Regions from separate parts of the Homo sapiens genome. Here region 1 is linked to region 2. The links come from fine-mapping of genetic effects on gene expression. A gene starts in region 2. The other region holds a variant in brackets. All regions are shown on one strand. Distances are between the middles of the regions.

Region 1 (2,913 bases), 64 kb before region 2:
AGATGCGAATTCACTTGGTCGAGGGTGGGTCCCCAAGTTTCTAACGCGTGTCCGTGATATTCTGCTGCTCCCCACCTGCCTGCGGATCTGCGAGGACCTTTGACTTACAAAGGGTCCAACATGCAGATAATACAAAAGTTTATTTTTCCTATGTATTTTGGTTTACCATCCCCCGAACTTGAATGTGAGTTCCACCAGGATAGAGCTCTGGTCTGTTTTGTTTGCTGCTATATTCTCTGTACCTGGAACAGGCCTGGCACATAGTAGGAGCACTATGTTATTTCCAGAAGGAAGCAGTGAATGAAATACAAACCAGAAAAGACAGCAGAGGTGATAAACCTAACATTATACAAAGTGAAAGTCAAGGTGCAAATTATGAACGAAACAAAGGTTTTACACTCATTTTTAAAAGGGAGAAATAACAGTCACAAGCCCTTAGGTCCTAAAGTAAAAACTGTCTCCCCAAAAAAGGAAAATTGCAAATACTACATTGATTTTAGAAAGGTTAACTCCCATCTTGGTCACATCTCAGAAGCAAAAAGTGACGTAAAAGACTTGAATAAAGAAATTAATGGCCAGGCGTGGTGGCTCATGCCTGTAATCCCAGCACTTTGGGAGGCCGAGGTGGGCAGATCACTTGACGTCAGGAGTTTGAGACCAGCCTGGGCAACATGGGGTAACCCCGCCTCCACTAAAAACGTAAAAATTAGCTGGGTGTGGTATCAGGCACCTGTAATACCAGCTACTCAGGAGGCTGTGGCAAGAGAATCAGTTGAACCTGGGAGGCAGAGGTTGCAGTGAACTGAGATTGTGCCACTTCACTCCAGCCTGGGCAACAGAGTGAGACTCGTCAAAAAAAAAAAAAAAAAAAAAAAGAATAAACAGGACCTGTGTATTTACTAGTTTATTGTTGTAAAATATGCATAACATAAAATTTACCATGTTAACCATTTTAAGTGTGCCGTTCAGTGGCATTAAGTACATCCACATTATTGTACAACCATCACCACTGTCCATCTCCAGGACTTTTTCATCTTCCCAAACTCTATATGATTAAACAATAACTCCCCTTCTCCTTCCCTCCAACCCGTGGTAATCACTATTATACTTTCTGTCTTTGAATTAGACTACTTTAGGTACCTCATATAAGTGGAATCATATACTGCTTATCCTTTTGTGACTGGCTTATTTTACTTAGTATGATGTCTTCAAGGTTGATCCATGTTGTAGCATGTATCTGAATTTCATTCCTTTTTTTTTTTTTTTTGAGACAGAGTCTCGCTCTGTCAACCAGGCTGGAGTGCAATGGTGCGATCTCAGCTCACTGCAACCTCCGCCTCCGTGGTTCAAGCAATTCTTCTGCCTCAGCCTCCCAAGTAGCTGGAATTACAGGTACCTGCCATCATGCCCGGCTAATTTTTGCATTTTTGTAGAGACGGGGGTTTCACCAAGTTGGCCAGGCCGGTATTGAACTCCTGACCTCAGGTTATCCGCCCACCTTGGCCTCCCAAAATGCTGGGATAACAGGTGTGAGCCACTGATCCTGGCCTCATTCCTTTTTTATAGCTGAATAATAACCCATTGTATGTATACACATTTGTTTCTCCATGCATCTGTTGATATACACTTGGGCTTCTTCTACCTTTTGGCTATTGTGACTAATGCTGCTATAAGCGTGGGTGTACAAACAGCTATTTAAGTTTCTGCTTTCAGTTTTTT[T/G]GGGAATATACCCAGAAACCCAGAAGTGAAACTGCTGGATCATATGTTTCATTTTTTGAGGAACTCGCATACCGTTTTCTGTAGCGGCTGCACCATGTGAACTAAGGTTAAAATGAATGTTTCGCCGTTGCTGGACTAGTTGTCCTAGGGTTTTTTCTAGCTCTGCTGGCCTGTGGTTAGAGAAATGTGAGGATGAACAACAGGGAAGGGAAGTGGATTGGAAGGACACGGGCAGTCTTCCAGCTCAGATGCTGGAAGTGGTGGTGGTGAGGGTGGGGGAAGGGTGTTTATGAAGTCATAATCCAGTCACGGACCTCAGGACATTTGGGCTGGGAGAGGTAGACCTAGGCCAGTTTGGAGTACTAGGCAATGGGGGCGGGGGGGTCCCTGCACCTCAAAGAGGCCTGAGAAAGAAGAACCTCACATGTATCAGGGAGTCCCAGAGAAAATGGTGCAAGGAGCAATGCCCAGTGGCCAGCCATCCTCAATGTCATGGCCCCGGAGGCCAGAACAGTAGAGAAATTCAAGGTGCGGAGACCGGCTCCCTCACATGGGCAACCTGGCCCACTGGCTCTTACCATTCATATATCTGTGAACATGGCCTTATTTGGAAATAGTATCGTAGCAGATCTGATTATGTAAAGATGAGGTCCTTTTGGATTAGAGTGGGCCTCATAAGACAAGGGGGTTGGGGCGCACAGACACACACCTGCCCTGTGGGCAGGTGAGGAAACTGGAGCAAATGCCAGCTCCCTGAACAGAACAGAGTGAGCCTGACAGTTGGGCATCTGTCCAAACCACACGAGCAGGCCCGGCAGGAAAAGTACCTGTCCAGTGGACAAGCGGCCCATGCAATCAGGACAGCTGGGAAGAGGCTGATGCTTTCAGCCACGCTTCATCTCCTTGTCCTCATTTGGGCAGAGGTAAAGAAAGAGCACTACTGGCTGCACATGGTGGCTCACGCCTGTAATCCCAGCACTTTGGGAGGCTGAGGCAGGCGGATCACTTGAAGTCAGGAGACCAGCATGGCCAACATGGTGAATTCTCATCTCTAACAAAAATACAAAAATTACCCGGGTGTGGTGGCACATGCCTGTAATCACAGCTCGGGGGACTGAGGCAGGAGAACTGCTTGAACCCAGGAGGCAGAGGTTGCAGTGAGCCGAGATCTTGCCACTGCACTCCAGCCTGGAC
Region 2 (2,913 bases):
TAGGAATATGTGATACAAGTAACGTTTAAAGACTCATACATTCATCCTAATTTACTGTGGGAAATAATATAACCATCTTACATTCTGGAATATATGACACTTAAAGGTTTTGGGAATTAACCCATCAAAACCTGGAGCAGCAGCATCCATCTTAAAATCTCCAAACTCCATCGCTACCTGGTGAGGGCTGAAACTCTCTTCCCTAAAATAATCTTCAGGCCACACTGGAAGCACCTCCCTCTTACGAAAGATACTGCATGACCTTTAAGCATCCAAGTGGTTTTGAAAAGACTTCATCTGGCCATATGCTCACTGCTCCCATTACCTCTTTCCCAAGAGTTGAATTAAAGAAAGGTTAGGCAAGAACCCTTCCAAGAAGGCTCCCGGTTCTCACGACTAGGAACAATCTGAGGACAAGATGTCTGGGCAGCGGAATGTTATGAAAAGACCCTGGCCTGGGTTGTCTATCAGCCTCGTCCGTTAACTTTCAACTGCCCGAGTGCGTTTTTAATTCCGTTTCTTTAAATGCATGGCCCCAGACTCCCTGACGTGTGCAATCTTGGGTGGTTCAGGAGGCTGCTCTCAGCTTTACTGGGCGCACAACCCATCGCTTTAAAAAAAAAAAAATCACTTGGGCAACTTCGAGAAATCTAATAAAAAAATAAAAAAGGAAAAAGGAGAAGCAAGGCACAGCCTCTCACCCCACACGTGACTGAAGCCAACCCTAGACGAGCAAATGAATTTTCCTGACAAACGTGTGGCAACAAAGGAATGCTCGCTGGGGGGCTCCCGCGCCCGCCAGACGCTGCCCGCCCGCGAGCCCCGCACACCTGATCCCCGACACGTCCCGCGGCAGCCGCCCGCCCCGCCCCGCTCCCGCGCGTCCATCCCCCGGCGTCCCCGCCGCACGTCCCCATCCCGGCCCACGTCCCCTCCGCGGCCCGCTCCGCCCACCCGGCCTCCCCGCCCCCCAGGCCCGCCCCCGCCCCGCCCCGCCCGGCTCCGCTGCTGGGGACCACCCCCCGCACCAGGGGGATCCGCGCTACCCGCGCCGCTCCCGGACCGCGAGCCCAAACGGCCCCGGGCCCAAGACCCCAGGAGGCAACAGAGAGGCCCGGAGCAAGGCAGGCGCCCCTCCTCTTGACAGGGGACGGGAGCTGTCAGTCACCTGGACATCCCATGCCTGAGCCAATGAGCTGCCTTCTCCTCCCGCCTCCCGCGCCGCGCCGGTGGCGGCGGCCGGGGCTGCTCCTCCTCCCCCATCCCCTTCACAGAGCCTCGGCCCCGCACTCACTGTTGAGGCCGGCCGGCGGGGGCAGAGACTGCTCATTTTCCTCGCAGTTGTTGTTGTTGTTGTGCAGGGGCGGCGGCGGCTCGACTAGGTGGGACGACATTGTCGGACAGCTGGCAGGACTGCGGCAGCAGCAGGACCGTCTCCGGCACTCAGGCAGCAACACAACAAGCCGAGTCCGCCGCCCCCTTTTCTGCGCCTGCGCCGTCCCTCCCCTGCCCCTGACGTCAGGGCCCGCCCAGGCCACGTGATGACAACACAACAAGCGACCGGACGGGGCAGGGGCGCTCCCCTGCGGGCCCCGGACGTGGAGACGCTCGAGTCAGGCTGACGCGCGCGCCGGGAACGAACTCTTGCGTGTGACTTGGGATGACCGGATGGGATGAGTGATGCCAGTGGCAGTGGGAGAGAGGATGAGGAGAAACGGAATGAGGAAGTGCGCTCCTGTGTTCGCGCCCGTGCCTCCTCTCACACAGGCTCCACAGTGCTTCACCCAGCCCTGCGCACGCATCTGTTTTCTACCTCTTAGGACTCACTTCTGCAATAGGTGTCTTGGGGACACAAAGGAATCCCCAAACCCAGGTGCCTCCACGTGTAAACTCCAAATAAAGCTGCTGAAACATCAACACTCCATACGGGAAACAAGGGAAGGCCGCCCCCAAATTTAATTGTTACAGAATTTTTAAAATGTCGATTACAAACACACCATCATTCTGAAAAAAAGAGAAAGAAGAAAGGGGAAGAAAGAAAAAAGAAAAATTCAGGAAAACAGAGAGAAGAAAGTACTCACCCAAATCCCATCGACTAATCGATTTCTGGGACATGACGTGGGAAGCCGTTTATCCTGTACGTGGATGACATTAAACTATGTTCCTGAGCACACCTCCTACTTCACATCTCCATGTCTTCGTCCAGTCTCCTTGGTCTGATTTATGAGTGACATATGTTTCTCGCAGTCTCTAACTTGTCTTTTAATTTGTTTTTTTCACTCTGTAGAAGCTTAAGGTTTTCATGTAATCAGATTTATCATTCTTACATGGCTTGGGGAGACAGTCACACCAAGATTACTAATCTATAATTCCCTTATAACTTTTTCTAATTTTCTTATAGGCTTAACTTTACATTTAGAGCTCTAATCCATCTGAAATTTATTTTCCATATGCTGTAAATTATTTAACTTCAATTCTTCCCAATTTTGTAGCCCATTGACCTAATAATATTAATTTTAAGCCATCCTTTCTACACTGATTTGAAATTGCACCTTTGTCACTCTCTGAATGACCACAAAAATGTGAGTCTGTTTCAGGGCTATCTGCAATACCTCTGTTAGATAACTATTAAAGTTTCTCTTCCTTTGTCTTTTTCAGATGTTAATGGCTAGTTACTCTTCAGATGAACTTAAAAATGGACTTGTCCAAGATTGACCTTGTGTTGGTAATTATTGAAGCTATGTAATACATTAAAGTATTCCTCTAATTTTTTAATATATTTGAAAAAGTCCATGCTAAAAGGTTTTTTTTAAGGATTGATTTGTCAAATCCCTTTGCAAATTCTTTTAAGATTTTGGTCAGAAATGAACTCTATTAATAGATTGAGTGCTGTTTCCGGTCATACCCGGAAGC

Evidence for each region. PIP is the estimated chance that this variant, and not a neighbour inherited with it, causes the effect.
Region 1: its variant is fine-mapped to the expression of BNIP3L in whole blood (TOPMed, PIP above 0.99).

Annotation. Positions count from the first base shown.
Region 1 is chr8:26,445,188-26,448,100 of GRCh38, reverse strand. LOC124901868 (vegetative cell wall protein gp1) reads left to right here. Exons shown (of 2, transcript XM_047422506.1): 2 at 1-905. Among named protein-coding and RNA genes, the nearest start is that of BNIP3L, 64 kb to the right of the region's middle. The variant T/G (reference allele first, on the strand shown) is at 1,720.
Region 2 is chr8:26,381,612-26,384,524 of GRCh38, reverse strand. BNIP3L (BCL2 interacting protein 3 like) reads right to left here and starts at 1,471. Exons shown (of 6, transcript NM_004331.3): 1 at 1,295-1,471. The coding sequence starts at 1,394. It also overlaps the pseudogene SDAD1P1. RefSeq lists a silencer at 722-1,311 and enhancers at 1,522-1,821, 1,795-2,913.